Homo sapiens: one gene and its partners. The protein of the gene in region 3 interacts with the protein of the main gene of each other region in a pairwise test. Each region holds a gene or a part of one and is shown on either strand. Other genes may lie near its edges.

Region 1 (3,112 bases), on a different chromosome or scaffold from region 3:
TCCTTGCCAGGCTCTTCCTCCTGTCCTGCCTGGTCCTTTTCCATGACTCCAGGCTGTGCCTCTCTCCATGTTTGGTCCCTTCTGTGCCCATGGTCAGGAGCTATTCGGGTGGCACCTCGCTGGCCAGGCTCTCCCGAGTCGTGGCACCTCCACAATGTGAATTTTCTGAATCCCTATTCCAGGATTTCTGGGAATAATGTTTACTTCTAGAATGGGCCTGTTGTAAACCATCTCATCGAGGTGTGGTAAAGCCATTGGATGAGGAGGGGACTGCCATGGAAAGGAGAGTTTGTTACTTACGGTTCTGAGAGGAGGGGCCACATAGGAAAGCCCCACGGTGGGTCAGAAGGCGGAAGGAGGGAGGGGAACGTGTGGGCAAGAGACTTCCTCTGGTTTCCTCAGGAGGAAATGGGCAAGGCAGAGTAAGCAGGGGAGACAGGTTTAAGGGTAGCTGGCTTGAGTAATTTCAGTGGCTCTCAGGATAGGGGCTGCCCTTTTTGTCTGATACCTGGCCCCGGGATAGTCAGGACAGGTGAATGTTGGCCTGGGGTGTGACAGCCCTGGGAGAGCCATGTGAAGGAGGCAGCTGGCGCCATCGCTCCGGATTAGTTGGTTTCCATAGGAAAGGCATGCTTTCAGCCAGATGCTTGCCATCTCTAGGGATTGGGGGATTGGCTAGCCTGGGAGGATCAGTCTGTCCAGGTCAGCGAGGCCCCAGATACCAGAGCATCAAGAGTACAGGAAATACAGTTAATGCAGGGCCTCTGTGTGGCTGGATCCTCCGTCTCCATCAGATCAGCTCTGATTGATCTATTCTTGCACGATTTCCTCTGAACACAGGGTTCCAGAGTACTTAAACACAACATTTTTTAAATCGTGATTTCGGCCTATTTCCTTGCCAGGCCTGTTTCCCCACCAGGAAATGAGATAGGAGGACTGGATGAGGATGTCCTGTTATAGTTGCTGTGGAGGAAGTTCCTCTGGTTAATTCTCATCAGCGTCTGCAGAAAAGAAGGAAAGAGGGCACCCTTTTCAGTTGGGAAGAAAGGAGAGGGGTGGCGCCATGGACGTGGCCCTAAACGCTGTGGGAGAGGGAAGAGGAGGCTGGGCCTCGCTGCCCTCTTGTCTCTGCTGACTTCAGCCTGGTCATGCTTGCTCTGCCACTTGCGATTTCATCCCTAATTTCTTCCTCCACCATGCCTGCAGACTTTTCCCTGGGCTTGTTTTTTCTCGCACATCTCTGAAGAGTTTTTAATCTTCAGCTCATCATGTCCCAGGAAGTGGCATCATAAAAGGAAATATTTTTTTTTCCTAGGAGCAGTGTTAAAATCTGGGTCACATTCCTGACCAAGGACAGCATCCTGCCTTCTGCCCATCCCCTTCAGTTCACAAAAGCTGACATTTTAAACAAATCATGACTCACACGTATTAATTGGTTATAAATATGTTGTGTACACTGGTTAGATAAAACTTAAGGCCACAAGGAGGGCCCAGGTAGGCGATGTCAGTGTGTGAAGGGGCTGGATTGGGCGTGGTGAGGATGTTGGCAAACCAGTGCATGCACCTGGTTGGAAGATGCTCAGCCTCACAAAAGCTCCAAGCCCTTTGGGAGCCAAAGTGTCTGAGAGTGTGACCCTCTCCTGTAAAGTATTTATCCCACCCATTAATATAATTTCTGTATAATAAACTTGACCTGAAATTATTTCATTCTTTATATTAAACTTTTAAAAATGTTTTTTATTTTCACCTTAGATATGGGAAGAGTTTTTTTTTTTTTTTTTTTTTTAACAGGATAACTTGAGCAGGCTAGGCCTCTTAAAAAAAAATTTGAGCTAAAACTCATTTTTCTTTTGGCATTTTCTTTTCAATGTTCTTATAAGCAAAGTTCATCCATGTTGTAGCATGTGTTCAACTTTATTTTTTCATCGGGTAATATTCCATTGTATGGAATGGTAGTACTACATTTTATTTATCATGCATCGATTGGTGGACATTTGGATCGTTTCTACTTCTTGACTATTATACATAATGCTGCTAGGAACTTTTGTGTATGAGTTTTTGTGTGGACATATGTTTTCATTTCTCTTTGGTATATGCCTGGGAGCAGATTTGCTGGATCATATGAAACTCTATTTAACCCTTGAGGGACTCCCAAACTGTTTTCCAATGTGGTGACACAATTTTATATCCCATCAACAGGGCATGAGGGTTCTGATGACTCCACATCCCTCAGTGCTTTTTATTATCTATCTTTTAACTTAGCCATCCTAGTAGGGGTAATGTGGCATCTCATTGTGATTTTGGTTTGCATTTCCCTGATGGCGAATGATATTGAGCATCTTTTCATGAGCTTATTGGCCATTTGCATATCTTCTTAGGACAGCTATCTTTAGATCACTTGCTCATTTTTTAATTGGGTTATTTGTCTTTTTATTATTGAGTTGTAAGAGTCCTTTTATAGCCTGGCACAAGTCCCTTTAACTGGTATATGATTATAAAATTTTTCTCCGTGAGCTGTTTCATTTCCTTGATGATGTCCTTTGAAATACTAAAGCTTTTAATTTTGATGATGTCCAATTTTTATTTATTTTTTCTTTTGTTGTACATGTATCCTAGAAATCTCACTTTTGATACTGCCCTTAGGTCCATGTAAGTTCGGGGTTTTGGCTCAGGGATGGGGCAGTTATTCTGTTGGCAGGAAGCGCTAGTCCACGAGTTCATTAATTCTTCCCTGAAGCCCCTCTCCTGCCCTTGCCTTCCACTCACCCCGTCACTCTCCTTCTCATTACTGTGTCCAGGCTCAAAGCAGCAGCTCTCTGGGAAGGCCCCCGTTCTCCAGTTTCTCCCACTTTTGCATCCATTCCACATGCACCATCGTTCATGTTCCCATCACCTGGAGAGACCCCATTTCCAACCCGCTGCAGTGCATTTCTCCAGGGCAGCTCTCAGGGCACATTGTCACTGCACTCTGCCTTTATACCCGGAGTCTTCTCAGTCCCGTCACACATGGCTCCAGCCGGACCAGGCTCCTGTTTACCCTTGAAATAGGCCACCTGCCCTCACCAGGGGCCCGTTGTCACTGGAATGTCCTGACCTTGGTTGCTCTGGCTCT
Region 2 (7,065 bases), on a different chromosome or scaffold from region 3:
ATGGAGCGGTGCGGGAACAAGCCTCTGCGGTGGCTGGAGATGTGGGGATGGAGACTGGTCATGCCTTCACACACTTAACCAGAACCCTCCCAGCTCTCCCTCCCCTGCAACCAAGCCAGCAAGGCGACACGGTGGCTGGCGCTGGCGAGAGGCAAGTGTGCTTGACTGCCTTTCTCCACTCTTGAGGACAACACCCAGAGTGGCCCCGTCTTTGCCCCACCAGCCCAGGCCTAAAGCTTCCTCATCATCCGCATCCCGGCCTGGGACTTAGGCGGACTTCTGCCAGCTGTGTCACGTGCAGGGGACTGCAGCCACTGACCCCCTCTCCCTTCTGTCCTGCTCTTCTCTACCCCACAGCCCCAGGCAGATCTTCAGTGCATGTCAGCTCTCCTCCCTCCCTCCCTGCAGACCCCTGTGCCCCGCAGTGCCCTGAGAATGACGTCTGAGCCCCCAGTGGAGGTGTCAAGGCTGTTCGGTCTGTCCCCATCCCGTTCTGTCCTCCCCTTGCTCACCACACTCCCCTGCCTGGTCTTCCAAACTCGAACCCCAGGCAACTCCTTCAGGCATCAGACCTCTGCCCCTGCGCCCCTCCTGCCTCTCTGTGATGGGCTGGCCCTTCCCTTCTGCTGCCTCCCCTCCCTCCTTCCTGCTCCAACCCCTATCTCTCTCTGATGCTGCCCCTTAGAGAAGCCTTCTTGGACCTTAAGCCTGGCCACTCCTCTAAGCCCCTCATCTCCAGGTGTGGTCTAGGAAGTGCTCTCAGCCTCTCTACTCCAGTGGCTCGGGGTCTCTGACCAGCCCTCCTGCCAGGGAAGCTTTGAAGGTTCCCACAGGGACCCCTAGAGACAAGGGCACTGCCCGTCCAGATGGCACCCTCACCCCAACCCCAGCAGCACTGGCTGGAGCAGGCCATGCCTGTGTGGGTATCTGAACAGGCACTGGATTCCCCGATCTCAACAAAAGAAGCCCATGGAGGCCTTTTCTAATCCACAGTCCAAGAGGACAAATCAAGACAACAGGCTGGGGGGGCTGGCTGTGGGCCGACTCCCACGTCTTAGGACCAGGGGCTCTGGGGCTGTTTGGGCTGGAACCCCTCCTCCCAGCATAACAAACACTAGCTCATTATTTACAGTGAATACCCAACAAAACCCTGCTCGAGGTGAGGAGCGGGGACCTGCTGCTCCAACAGACCAGACTGGCTGCTGGCTCCGAGCTCATTAAATCAGCAACCTTTGCACTCCCTCCAAAGCCCTGCCCGTCACCTTCACACCTCCCTGGTGGGGGAAGGGGATTCTTCCACTCTGATTACACCCGTTCCCATCTCCCTTCACTCCTGTGAGCTGGCCAGGCTGAGGATTTGTCCAAAGGGCCTGGGGAGTGAGACGCTCCACAGCTTCTCATGGGTCAGCCGACATGGACGGTAGCTTGGGTGACTCAGCTTCCCGTGATGCGCTGGATGCACAGGGAGCTGGTGACAACAGCCTGTGTGTGTGACAGAACAGCCTGTGCGTGTGACAGGACGTCAAGAACTACATACAAAGACACAGCTGCCCCCAAAAATGAGTCTGCACAGCCTGGTGCAATGCAGCTGCAGCCTGTCATCGAGTCAATTGCATTGTCGTCCGCCGCTCTCCTGATGTAGTTCTGTGTTTGTCCATTTTGCACTGCTATAAAGGAATACCTGAGACTGGGTAAGTTGGTGAGCGCCTGTAGTCCCAGCTACTCAGGACGGTGAGGCAGGAGAATAGCATGAATCCGGGAGGCGGAGCTTGCAGTGAGCCAAGATCGCGCCACTGCACTCCAGCCTGGGCCACAGAGCGAGACTCCGTCTCAAAAAAAAAAAAAAGAAAAGAAAAAAGAGGAGCTGGGCGCAGTGGCTCACGCCTGTAATCCCAGCACTTTGGGAAGCTGAGGCGGGTGGATCACCTGAGGTCAGGAGTTCAAGACCAGCCTGGCCAACATGGCAAAACCCCGTCTCTACTAAAAATACAAAATTATCCGGGCATGGTGGCGCATGCCTGTGATCCCAGCTACTTGGGAGGCTGAGGCAGGAGAATCACTTAAACCTGGGAGGCGGAGATTGCAGTGAGCCGAGATCGCACCAATTGCACTCCAGCCTGGGCAACAAGAGCGGCAACTCCATCTCAAAAGTAAATAAAGAACAAAAGGGGTTTGCTTGGCTCACAGTTCAGATCAGCGTTCAGAGGGTGCTGCTGTCCCTGGTCATACTGTACAAGAAGAGGCTTCTGGGGAGGGCTCAGGAAGCTTTTACTCACAGCAGAAGGCAAAGTGGGAGCCAGGGCATCCGTCACTTGGTAAGAGCCAGAGCAAGAGAGGGGCGGAGGCGCCAGGCTCTTTTTAACAGCCAGCTCTCACTCATCACCAAGGAGAGGGCACCAAGCTACTCATGACCCAAATAGCCTCCCACCAGGTCCCACCGCCACCATCAGGGGCCACATTTCCATGAGATGTGCAGGGGGCTCACTTCCAAACAGTATCAGATATAGTACTAGTTCCTTTTTTTTTTTTTTTTTTTTGAGACAGAGTCTCATTCTGTTGCCCAGGCTGGAGTGAAGTGGCGCGATCTCGGCGCAATGCAACCTCCGCCTCCCGGTTCAAGTGATTCTCCTGCCTCAGCCTCCCAAGTAGCTGGGATTACAGGTGCCCGCCACCGTGTCCGGGTAGCTTTTTTATATTTTTAGTAGAGATGGGGTTTCTCCCTGTTGGTCAGGCTGGTCTCAAACTCCCCACCTCTGGTGATCCACCCACTTCAGTGTCCCAAAGTGCTGGGATTACAGGCGTGAGCCACTGCGCCCGGCGCTACTTATAACTTTTTAAGAAACTACCAAGCCAATTTCTAGAATGGCAGCACCACTTTGCCTTACCACTGGCGATGTCCCAAGCTGCTCCGCGACCTCAGTGATGCTTGGCACTTGTTAGCAGTTTTTACCTGAGCCACCTGGCAAGTGTGCAGTGGCACCCACCGCGATGCTGGCCGGCCCTTCCCTGACAGCCATCCCTTCCCGAGCCTATTGCCATCCCTGTGCCCTCTTCGGTCAAACGTCTGTTGCGGCTCTTGCCAATTTTCTAACTGGAATGTTTGTTTTCTTGCGGTAGAGTTTAGAGATTTTTACATATTATCAGCCTGGGGGCTCCTCCACCCACACAGCCCTGAGCGTCCACCCTGGCAGCTGTTGCCCGTCTGCAGGCCCCCCCGCCCTCTGCTCCGCGTGCCCCTCCAGCTCAGGGGTCCCCTCGCCTCGGCTCTCTGCACCCCTGCTCAAAACGGTCAAAGAACCCTCCCCGGCCGTTTATTTTTCCCAGAAAGTGACAATTTTCTCTTTTCAGGTCGTAAGCACAGAACTGAGGGAGAAACTGTGGCTGAACAAGAGGAAAATGAGGAAGGAGTCCATGAAGGGGCTTTGGGGAACCTGTAACATCCTCCTCAGGCTCCCGGGGACGCCCCTGGAAAGCAGGCAGAATCGAGGGCGCTGGGGCCCCCGCGAGGGGAGCGGGAGGTCGCGCGTCTCGCAGCGGTTCCCGGCCGCCGGTGACCATCGCTGCGGACACATCCCGAGGAGGGAACCCAAGAGGGCGGCGGGGGGGACTCGCGAGCTGAACGTGGAAGCAACTCCAGCCGAGGACCCCCGGAGGCCTGGAGTGCACGGAGGGGCCGCGGGCAGCGTGGGGACGGCGCCGTCATCTCCCGAAGCCCGGCCCCGCGCTGGCTCCCCGGGCGGTGCAGGGCCGGCGTCGGGAAGGAGGCTCCGAGGCGCCGGCTTCTGCGCCCCACGCAGCGCCGCTCCCCGCGCCCGGGCGCTTTGCAGGCGCGGGCGGGATCCGGGCCAGCGTGTACGCGAAAGCCACGCGCGGGCGCAGCCCACGAGGGGAGGGGCGGGGAAAGGCCTCCTCTTCGCTCCCGGCCCCGCCCCCACACGGCCACCGAGGCGTGCGGTCCTCCCGGGGCCCAGAGCGTCCCGGAAGTGCGCGCCGGCCGGGCGGAGTGGGGCGGGGCCGGACACTTCCGTCCGGCGCGCGGCGTCCTCCTCCCGCTCGGAAGGTGAGTGGGCGCGGGCGGCGGCGGCGGCTCCGGGTGCCTGGGACCAGCCCAGTCCGAGCTCGTGCGCCGTACTCCGCGGTGCAGCCCTGCCCAGCCGGGCCGTGCGGCCCTTGCAGCCGCCGCTCGCCGTGACCTTGGCCTTGGGCCAAGCCCGGGGAGCGGGGTGGGCTCCTGGGGGTCGCGGAGCAGCAGCGGACCGCCCCGCCCAGCGGCCCTGGCGATAGCGGGTGTCCGTTCGCAGGGCGCCTTTCCCAGGCACCCAGTGACGGCAGCTGTCGTCATCGCCACTCTGCAGATGGGAAACTGAGGCCCGGAGGTCCCGCCGCTCCGGAGCGAGGAGCCGCCGGACCCCAGCGCCGCACCGCCGGGCGGACGCGCTCTGTGCCGAGCTCCCGGCGATTGGGTCCGCTCCCACGGGGCTGGGAACAGAGGGGCAGAGGATGCTTCCCCCGAGCCGCTGGCAGGAGTGCCCTTCCCCCTTCAGTCTGGAGCTCAGAGTTTGTGCGTCCCTGGGGGTGAAGGGGCGTCCACGCTGTGATGGTCGCCTCTGCTCAGTCCTGGGGGCCAAGCCAGGGTCGGGGTGATCGAGCAGGCCCTTTTACCAGGTGTCCCCAGTAAGTTAACTAAGTAACTTGAGATGTGACTTCAGGGTGGAGGACCTGCACCCAGTGGCCACCTACCTGGTGACCTGACCCTTCCCATCATTAGGGGATGGAGGCTGGCCCAGAAGCCGGGCACTGGGGTGGCGGCCGTGTGGGAGCTGCCTCTCCCACTTCCTCGAAGCAGGCACTGTCTGCTGTTCTTAGATCTGAGTATCCGTTAACTTTTGTCCTCTTTTCCCGTTCCTTTCTTCACTCCCTGCCCCAGATTAGGAGTTCCTACTCTATCACAGTATGAAAGAAAAGTCACTTTTCACATTGGACTCAAGCCGTTTTTGCAAAGTAAACTAAGAAGTGTCTTGGAGCCCTGAGTGAGTCTCCCAGTGCTGCTGCAGGGCTGGACTAGGGGATTCCAGCCTGCAGTCTCTGAGGGCTCTGTAGGGTCTGAGGAAGAGAGTTGCCCTCTGGAAACGTCTCTTCTCTGCTGTTCGGGAAAAACCTTATTAAGATTTCCTCCAAAACACTCATGCGCAGCAGGCATGGTTCGGTTTTCAGCCCTCCCACAGGGCCAGCAGCTGAGGTTTTTCTGGAAGACTCCCTATGCCTTTCTCTGGGGGAGGGGTGATGCCACGGGCTGGAAGGAGATGCCAGAGCCTCTGCTGGGACAGGAGCTTCGCTTCAGCCCCCACAGGCGTCTGCTGTGCCGCCCAGGCGGTGGCTGCTTCCTAAGCGCGCCTTCCAAGGCGTTACTCCTTTGCTGCTGCTGCTGCTGCTGCTGTTGTTTGAGTCTTGCTGTGTCTCCCAGGCTGGAGTGCAGGGGCGCCATCTCGGCTCACTGCAACCTCCACCTCCTGATTTCAAGCTGTTCTCCTGCCTCAGCTTCCCAAGTAGCTGGGATTACAGGTGCCCGCCACTGCGCCCAGCTAATTTTTATATTTTTAGTAGAGATGGGGTTTCACCATATTAGACAGGCTGGTCTCAAACTCCTGACCTCATGATCTACCCACCTCGGCCTCACAAAGTGCTGGGATTACAGGCATGAGCCACCGTCCCCAGCCACTCAAAGCGTTATTCCTTACTGAATAAATGTGCCAGGTCCCCCAACTGCCTCACCCCAGGCCTATGTGTCTCTGTGGGTTCATCCTCCATCCTTGCTCCTCCTGGAGTGGATAAACCTCCATCTCCCCTTGGAGAGCTGGCATGTTGCCTCCTCCTGCACCATCCCCCCGACATTCCTCCCAATCCCCTCATCTGCCATGGTTTTCATTTTCCCCAGGTCCCAGGTGTGACACCTTCAGCAGGTCTCAGGGAAGATGGCAGCCCTAGGGGACATTCAGGAGTCCCCTTCTGTCCCGTCCCCTGTCAGTCTCTCATCACCGGGGACACCTGGAACCCAGCACCACGAGCCTCAGCTTCACCTCCATGGGCATCAACATGGTACTCACCCAGCCCGCTGTGCGCCCTCCACCCTGCATCCCCTGCCCTCACGTCCCCTGCCCTGTCTCCTCCTGACCTGCCACGCTGGCTGACTTGAGAGGCGCCTCCAGACACCTGTATGCAGCTCCTTCAGCAGCTGGGGTTCCCACACCCTCAGGCCAGGGGCTCGGCGCGGGTTGGGTTGGGGCAGCGGTGGTTGAGGCTGGGGCCAAGCCTGAGCTCTCGCTCCCTAGGGACAGCTCCCCGCATTGTTTCTTTCCTGAGTTGAGGTATAGGAGGGAAAGTGGCCTCAAAATCTGGATCCAGCGTGACCAGGAGCAAGGCATCGCCCCTCTGAGTGTGTGTTGTCATTCAGGAAGTGGAGCAGCCAGAGTCCTTGCCAAGCTGGTTTGGGTGTGATCCCCCGGGACTCGCAGGGACAGAGCGCCAGCCTTGCTCCACCCCTGATGTTGTGGCCTCATGGTCACATGGCAGGCTCTGGGAGTTGAGGTGTGGGGGAGTCCCAGCCCCATAGTGCCCCTGGCTCTACTCCCTCTCAGAGGTCAGGGATCCTGAGGCTACATCTCTGCTGGGTGTTCCACAGGAGGCCTGGCCTCGGCCCTCGTGGCCCAACCCAGCACATGAGCTGCTGACAGCAGGGGCAAGGCCCCATATAGGTCAAGCCTGGAGAGCCCGTGCCTGGCCCAGGAATGGGGGCAACCTGGCACAGGGTTCTCCCTCTTGGGGAGTCAGAGTCCTGGTGGCTGAAGGGACCACTGAGGCTTGTGGAGAGCAGCTGCGCTGCATGGGGCCCTCAGGTGGGCACTCAGATGGGGACAGAGAGTCCGGGGGGCTCCCCCAAGGAGCCAGGACCAGGGTGAGTTAGAGGAGCAGGGAGCCAGGCAGCTTGGCATCCACTCCCCTGCAGCCCTGCCGTCTCCGCTGCGGTGTCCCGAGCAACTCCCCAGGGACTGCGAGGAGGCTGGGAAG
Region 3 (8,824 bases):
AAAAAGCAGATGATGGAATGTGAATTAACACAAGTAAAATATATTTTTTCTAAATGGCCATTTTTTTAAATACTTGCCATAAATAAATTGAGACAACAGGTTTTTTTGTATAGTGATAGTGCGTTCCACTGCTATTACAGTAAATTGAGAAAATACTCCCAGTGATTTAATCCCCAAGATGTTGATATTTGAAACACCGATGGCAATCTTCAGTGAGAGGATTGCTTTAAATATTTTTTTTTCATCTAAATGTACTTAGTATGGGACAACTTGGAAATTATCTCACTCACCCAGACTTTTAAAATCGTTTTTTCACAAATTTATCCTGCTTTATTAATAAATTATTCCCTAGGAGCTTTGTAATACTTTTTAAGTTTGGGCAGGGCGATAATAATATTTAGCATAATATTTTGGTAAACTCTTCATGGGAACAAAATCTTGGGGGTTTTACTTTAAAAAACTCTATTATATTAGAAAATAATGTGTTCATCTGATAATCAGTTTTACTAGAGCCAGCATTGTTTGCTTGTGCATTAGATAAACCACAGAGTGAACTTATTTGGAATGTAGCTTTTAATATAGTAATTTATGTCTCATCTTTAATAGGTGAACCGTTTTGAAATGGAAATTTATTATTTATAGTCATTATGAAGAAAGATACGTATCATGGCAGAAGCCATTAAGGCCTTAGCACAGTTTAAAACTGCCCTGTAACATGGATTTTATTTGGGCCTTACATTTTTTTCCCTTTTCTCTTTTTTAAAGCCATTGCTCATAGGGATTTAATTACAGTAGGGACTATTTTTAACATTCTTTAGTTTCTTTTTCACCTGATTTCAACCTTCAAGAAAAGTGAAAATCACCAGTTTCCTGGGAAACCATTAACCCTTTCTAGATAGCCATTGTGGTAAAATCCAGTAGGGCCTCATTCTGAAATCCTCGAGTACATGCTTATTATTTGAAATTAAAGTTTTATGTAGAGAAATGGATAACTCCTAGGCTGACTGTGAGAATATATTTAATCAAGAATTAGTGGGGGATCTGTTATGTGTAGGGCTTTGCTTTAATGCCAAACCAAGTAAGGAAGAAATAAATTAGAATAAAGCATTTCTTAGATTGTTTCACATTTATGTTTAAAAATCTTACTTTTCAAAAATAGTAAACATACTCTAGAGCAAAAGAATTTGTGTTATAAATAGTAGAGGAAATAGCCACATACATGTTTGTTTTGTAGGTAATTTGCACAGAGACTGTTTAATACTCCAGTCAAATGTTTCCGATAGATATAACTGTACCATATTTTACATTATTGAATTAGCCTTCTAAATAGAGTTTTAAACATTTAAAGGCATATTATATAATACTTAAGAGTCTTTGTCCTTTGGTATTGAGTGTATATAGCACTGCATGTCCTTTTGTCAATTTGGCCAAAACATTTGGAGAAGTGAAGTAGCTGAAATAATAAGCATTTGGCTTATTAGGTTCACGTTAGCCAGAAACACTTCCTGTGTCAGTATTAGGCTTTCTAATAGCAAGTTGGGATTATATTAGATTTTGGAATTAGGTTAACTAGAATTAGACCATGTATGATAAACGTACTATGTTGTAATCTGAGTTTGAACTGTTTTTCCGTAAATAGAAAGCAAATTTTTATGGTTATATCATTTAGTGCCTCATAAAAAATATACCCAGTGGTGAGTTATTTTTGATAAGTGTAAATAAACATATGTTCACCCCATACATTTTACGTATGTATATGTATGTACACACACACACATATATATATATATAAAATTGGAAAACATTCTAGAAATAAATGGAAGCACTGGAAAGCTGTGTAATATTAAGCCATCTAATGTTTGTTTATATAGATGTGGTGTATACATAATATAAAAATTTGCTTATTATTCAGTTGGCCTGTGTAAAAATCAGCTAAATGACTGCATACTTGCTTCAACTTAATTTCCCTCTGCTTTCTCACTTAAAACTTTATGATCCTGAATTATATATTTTAAACACATTATGATACCATACCTAGAATTCCTCTCCTTACAAACTTTTGTAAATTTGTCATTTTTCCCCAAAAGACCTTCTCTCTTCCCCTCTTTCAACACTCTGTCCCTCTATGTTGCCTCTGTACTTCGTACATATGTATATTAGTTTTAAAATCATATAATATTGTGATTATTTACTTATTTCTATGACCGCTATTCTGTAATTCCCTACTTTTGTTTGTATGCCTAGCACAGTGCTTGATGGCAAATGCTCTACAAATGTGGTTGAATTAATGGAGCCTCATTACCTCATTTTTTTGTTTTCTCTGAATTTATGCATTTGAGATCATTAGCTGTATTAGAAAAAAAGGCCGAAAAAGAGTATGGGAAAAGTAAATTATTACCCGTTTAAGAAGGCTTACCTTTTTTTTTAAGAAAAGACAAAAATTGGCCTCATTTTTGACATGTTTTGTTTCTGCAAGTTTGAGAAATAACTTAGATCAGGCTTAAAAACTGTCCTAAAGTGCTGTTGGGATGTTTGGATGTGCTTGGCCTCTGAGTTATGTGGTGTATCTGAAGACCCGTGTTATATCCACAAGAAGGTAGACATTTGTGTGTCTGTCTTTTTTGGCATAGGAAGCTCAAAATTTAGGAATATGTATCTCCAGCTGTTTATCAGTTTTAAGTCTTTAAATTGCTCTCCCTTTCCCCCATGGTTCCACATTAGTGCCAAGGGTGAGGAACTGACTAGGGATAAAGAAGTGAAATTGATCAGGAAAGGGTAAACAGCAGCAGATTCCGTGATTTTATACTGCAGCTGTTGGTGACTGAGAACTGCCTAAGGGGAAAGTGTAACAATTTAGCCTTTTCTCTGGTGTTGTATAACTTGAACTTGACTAGTCTTACCCAGTTTGGGGAAATGATTGGTAAAGACAAGCCTGCTTTTCTTCTCCATCTTTCAGTAGGAACAGGAACGACATTAAAAATGCCAATTTAAAAAATGCTTCACCCCATGTAAGAGTAGTAGTTTATTTCAGATAATGTACAAAATGATCTCTAAAGTGAGTAATAATTTATTTGCAATTCTGCCATTAAATAACAGCTGCTAAAATTTTGGTCTACATGGAAACCTTTCTTATGATGTTGGTGATGAAACATATTCATTTATTAGATTTTTACTGTATGCCAAGCACTGTTATAAATGCTTTATGAAAGCATTATGTAGTTTATATATATACATGTGTTTCTTCTCAGTGGAATGGAATTGCACAGTGGGTACAATTGTAGCTTAATGTGAATATTTTCTTAAGTCGTTAAATATTCTAGAATATAATTTTTAGTGGCTACATTATGTTCAGTGTATGATATACATTAGTTGTAATCAGTCTCCTATTGTTGGATATTTTAGTTATTTTTAAACAATGTTGCATACCATCCTGAGTTCTGTCTCCATCCAGATCTCTTACTTTTCCCTTGAGATAGTCTAAGAATGGAGTTAAAAGAGAGGAAAATATTTAATTTTATTCTTTCTGTTAAATTGCCCTCTAGAAAAGAAGTATTTAGTATATGAGAGTGCTTAAACTTTGAAATGTCTGTACAGTTGTCTGAATTTTTCTTTGCCAATTTTGAAGGTAGAAAATGAAGTCTTATTTTTTAAATGCTTTATGGTAAAATAAAATTGATTTAAAAACTTATTAGGTTGTTTTGCGGTAACTAGAATGTTTTTAAATGCTATATTATAAATAGAATTTAAGTGCTCATGTAAAAGCCATTTGTACATCATTTATTTAACTCTTACCATCTTCTGTGCAGTATGGTATAGTCTAAAGAACACTGGACTTGAAATTGGGAGATGGATTTCTTTTGTAGCTATTTTTAATTTATTCTCTAATCCTGGGCTCTGTAGGCCTCAGTTTGCTGATTTATAAATTAAAGAATTTGGACTAAGCATCATATGTGCCCTTCCTTTGTTGATGGTGTATGATTTAGACTTTGTTAATTTTATTATATTGTTATTTTTGACATACTTAAACAAAAGACTTAAGAGTAGAAGTGGTAGGAAGATTAGGTAAAAGCATGCATTTTGAACAATTAAGATACAAAATTTGGAAACAATTGGTATATTAATAGTCTTTTAAGACTTACTTTGGGCTTAATAGCCATGTATCTTTGATGACACAAAATTTTGTACTACTCAATTTTGTTTTTTATGTATTTATTTATTTTAAAGAGGCAGGGTCTTGCAGTGTTGTCCAGGCTGGAGGGCAGTACAGTGGTATGATCATAGCTCACTGCAGCCTTGAACTCCTGGGTTCAAGTGATCTCCCACCTGTGCCTCTTAAGTAGCTAGGACGACAGGTGTGCCACCACACCTGGCTAATTTTAAAATTTTTTGTGGTGATCGGGTCCTGCCCAGGCTGGTCTCAAATTCCTTGGCTCAAGTGATCCTCTTGCCTTGGCCTCCCAAAGGGCTGGGATTACTGGCATGAGCCACCATGCACAGCCCTCATTTTAAAAAAGAGAAAAAAAGTATGGCCTCCATCTGTGGATGAATAAGTAAACAAAGGCTATTGGGCTTAAACACCAACTTGATTAGTTCTACAAGGAATATGCTAACAAGATACCAGTCTTTATGCTTTACTTACAGAAGTAAGTTTTTTACTAGGTCACTTATACAAATCAGTAATGTAACACTAGGGGATAACTGTATATTAGTTTAAGAAGTTAACTCAGGTAATGAATTTTGTTATTCTTTAATGTTTAGATTTATGATAAGTATTATGTCATAGCTGCATCTCAGAATCCAGAACCAAAATTATTACATATCTGTGAGATTGTGTTTTTGCGATACTCAGAATGAAAAACAGTTCATTAATAATGGATTTCACGCTAAGGTATTATGTTGCTGTAGACAAAGCATTCTTAAAATTCAGAGTGTTTGCGGGCTTGAAGGAAAATGTGACGTTCTTACTAATCTCAACCTGAACATTCATAATTAAAGGAAGTGTTAACAAGCTATGACAGTATTAGAGGTACTTGTGACAGCAAATGTGTTAGTTTTTATTGCTGCTTTAACAACGTACTACAAATTGGGTGGCTTAAAAAGCAACAACAAGTTTATTGTCTCACAATTACTAAAGGTCCAAAATCAAAAAGTTGGCAGGGCCATGTTCCCTCTAAAACCAGTAGGGGAATCCTTTCTTTTGTCTTCCTTGCTTCTGGTGGTTGTTGGGAACCTTTCACATTCCTGAGCTTGGAGCTGCATAATTCCATGTCTTCATCATCACATGGCGGTGTTCTCCCTGTGTGTTTCTATCTTCATTTGAGTGATACCAGTCATTGGATTAGGAGCCTACCCTACTGCAGTATGACCTCATCTTAACTAATAAGGTCATGGGGCTAGGACTTCTACATGTATTTTGGGGGAGACACAGTTCAACCCATAACACCAATAGAAACTACGGATTTTTTTTTTCTTATAGCACAATTGCTGTTAGCTGTTACAGCTATCTTGAAATACCATTTATAGTCATCACTAATTTGAAATTATTATAGTTATTAAAGCTATTGCTAGAGCATATATTTTAAAGTGTTAATAAAGAACCGCATTATTACCATATCAAAATGAAAAATATTTCAATAACTATGTCAATATAATTAATTTCTTTTGTAATACTGTGTATGTTGTTTTAGGCCCCTAATATTGTTCTGAGAAAGGGGTCATAAGCTTTACCAGGCTGCCAAAAACATCCATGACACAAAAGGCTAAAATCTTCTGCAATGGACAGAAGCCCAGAAGCCTGAACCCAAAGATAGAGATATAAAATAGGAAGAGTAAGAAACATGAGGATAAGATGAGTAACTCCAACATACAGCTAACAGTTCCAAAAGAAGAGAATAGAGGAGACGAAATATTACAAATAGTGGCTGCAAATTTTTAAGAACTAGCAAATCAAACCTCACTCAGCGAACTAGAACAAAACAAAGCCTCACAGTCAAATGGGGTTTATCTTGAGGATGTAAGAATGGATCAACATGAGAAAAGCAGTGCATTTTATCACATTTGAAGATTAATGGAGAGAAATGATACGATCTTAATAAATGCCAGAAATGTCATTTAATCTCTGCCCATAATAAAGTAAATGTTCATAAATATAGAGACAAATTATTTTTCTGCTCTCTAGAATTTCAGATTTTTAATTTTTCTGATTTAAAACGAGGGTGTGGGATTTACTTAACTTTGGGATTTTAGTCCAAGAGTTCTAGAATCATAACTGATTTTTTTGTACTTCTGAATTAATATATCATTTCTGTTACTCAGATGTAGGATTGACTGGTGGAAATTGCCTTGTGTCTGAAATTTCTGAATTACCTTGCAAGGCATTTCTTTCTGTGTTTGGAGAGCAAAGAATAACCTTTAGTAAATTCAAGAGTAATTGGAATTAAATTTCAGCCTAATATCAGTTTAATAATTTTATGTCTAAATTTAATCTGTATGACAGGAGTTATAATTTGTTTTTGTTTTTGTTTTTGTTTTTTTAATTTATTTTTTAGACGGAGTCTTGCTCTGTCTCCCAGGCTGGAGTGCAGTGGCGCCATCTCGGCTCACTGCAAGCTCCGCCTCCTGGGTTCACGCCTTTCTAACAGGAGTTATAATTTGGATAAAGGCCATTATGAACTTGGAATGTGGAATGTAATTCTTTTTCCTGGTAGTATTTAGTGATACTATTGCATGTGATTAAACACATTTTGCTTGAGCTGTTCATGTAGTTAGGAATTACATTCACAAATACAGTGTTTTTTAATGACTTCTATATATTAGCATCCCGTGGCAGGATTGCCAAAAATTTAGATAAAATTTAGTGAGTTGTGTCTTTTCTGATGCCACTTTTTCAAAGTTACTGTAACTTTTACCACTTCAGAGTGTTTTTATTCACTTCAGCACAGTCACCAAACTCTTTTTTTTTTTTTTTTACTGTTTTATTGTGTTATTTTTATACTGTGAGATTGGGGAGTTCTGGGGTTTCCCCCCTTAATATGTAAAAGCAGTATTAAACATTTCAGAATTTTAGTTGCTGGATTATATATATTGACTTTTTACACTTTCAGGATAGATTTGAACAGGGACCATTAATAACTTTTTCCTAAAGAAATTCAGTTCAGTGGCATTTGAATGAGTGCTTACTAGGCACTTGACTTTTGCCTTAGCTTTGGAGATACAAAGATAATTAAAACTTTAAAATCGCTATCACAGTCCACAAGGGAAATAGATACTTCTGAAATGTGATGGGTGTTCTGGTTATAAAGTTCTTCAAGGCTCAAGGAGAAAGTGATTCTACCTGGGAGTTGGTGGCAGGATGGTGACTGTGTGAAGGAAGGCTTCAGGAAAGAAGTGGCATTTTAAGAGTCAGCCATGAATGAGAGCATGGAATGGGGGAAGGGTATTCCAACCAGGAAGAGAGGGGGCAGAAGACAAGCACAGAAAGAAGAAAAAGTTGGAGGAAAGGCAATACCTTTTTGGATACAGTTGTTTGGAGGAGTTGTTAAGGAAAGTGTTGAGGGACCAGATTGTGAGTAGTGTAGATTTGTGCTTACCTGTATATCACCAACTGTGGGGCAAGGGATGGTGGCTAGGCCTAAAATATGAGACACAATATGAGCATGGCAGAAGCCCCTGGAAATCAGTTTTTCTTGAAAAGTTGAATATTTATCTGACTGGTTAGTAATAAGATGAATTTTGAACAGAGTTCCCATTAATTTTATAGATGAAACACCGAAGAGTTGAAAGAAAATTTGTTCTTTGAGCTACCTTCCCTCCTCACCACAACTATCTTTAGTCAGTAAGGATACTTAATGAGAGACACCAGGTGAAGTTTTCATCATGTAGACAGTGGCGACTCAGTATTTTAAGTGAGGGAATGATAATCCAATTTGTGTAAAGCAGGGCTTCTTAGGACAGTTGACTGGAGGGAGAAGAAAATGAACTTCAGTTGATGAGGAAGAATGTAGTAAGACAACAAAACAGAGCTGGGAATAGAGCATTTGGAACTATTGGGGACTCATATGAGAAGAAATTCAAATGTCCAACGATTATTTGACTGAATGTGAAGGAAGGAGTAGGAAGGTTGTGGGATGACTTGAACATTTTAAATTTAGGCCGCTGTAATGCTTTTAAATGAAGGTGGGAATAGAGATGAACCCGGTTTTTTAAATGGGAAAATAACCCAGTTTTGATCTTTTTTAGTCTGGGTGCTTACTGGATGTCAAGGTAGAAAGTGTCCAACAAGGTGCTTTAACTATAGGTTGAGTTCTCAAAAAGGTTAAGAGGGTAGAGTTATAGTGACATCTTCAGCATATATAGTAGTTGAGGCCAGTGGAAAATTTCCCATTGAGAATATTAAGTAATAATGGAAAGATGACAAGTGAGAAACAGCAGTGTTTTTAAGGGAGAGTAGAAGAAAGAAGAGACGCCAAAAGACGGAAGTGGCTTAAGTGGTAGGAGAGCTCTGAGAGGAAAGTATTTTAGAAGCCAAGGGAAAAAGGAGTATTGAGAAAGCGTTAGATATCACAGAAAAATTAGATTGGTGATTTCTAAGACAAGGATATAACCGTTAGGATGTCATTGACCTTTGTGGGAGTAATAATGGGGACAGAAGTCAGGTTTTGCTATAGGTTGAGGGTGTCCAATCTTTTGGCTTCCCTGGTCTACTTTGGAAGAATTGTCTTGGGCCACCTATAAAATACACTAACACTAAAGGTAGCGGATGCGCTAAAAAAAACGAATCACAAAAAAAATCTCATAATGTTATAAGAAAGTGTACAAATTTGGG

The links. The genes of interacting proteins can lie anywhere in the genome.
Region 1: the proteins of SPRED1 (region 3) and TRIM35 interact in binary tests that used the Homo sapiens proteins (3 or more experiments, as listed by UniProt).
Region 2: the proteins of SPRED1 (region 3) and GLI4 interact in binary tests that used the Homo sapiens proteins (3 or more experiments, as listed by UniProt).

Annotation. Positions count from the first base shown.
Region 1 is NC_000008.11:27,284,341-27,287,452, reverse strand, and holds the end of TRIM35 (E3 ubiquitin-protein ligase TRIM35), read left to right. Parts: 3' UTR 1-2,567; downstream 2,568-3,112. UniProt on the Homo sapiens protein: E3 ubiquitin-protein ligase that participates in multiple biological processes including cell death, glucose metabolism, and in particular, the innate immune response.
Region 2 is NC_000008.11:143,263,425-143,270,489, forward strand, and holds the start of GLI4 (zinc finger protein GLI4), read left to right. Parts: upstream 1-4,020; 5' UTR 4,021-4,060; intron 4,061-5,935; 5' UTR 5,936-5,972; coding exon 5,973-6,096; intron 6,097-7,065.
Region 3 is NC_000015.10:38,255,047-38,263,870, forward strand, and holds part of SPRED1 (sprouty-related, EVH1 domain-containing protein 1), read left to right. Parts: intron 1-8,824. UniProt on the Homo sapiens protein: Tyrosine kinase substrate that inhibits growth-factor-mediated activation of MAP kinase. Negatively regulates hematopoiesis of bone marrow.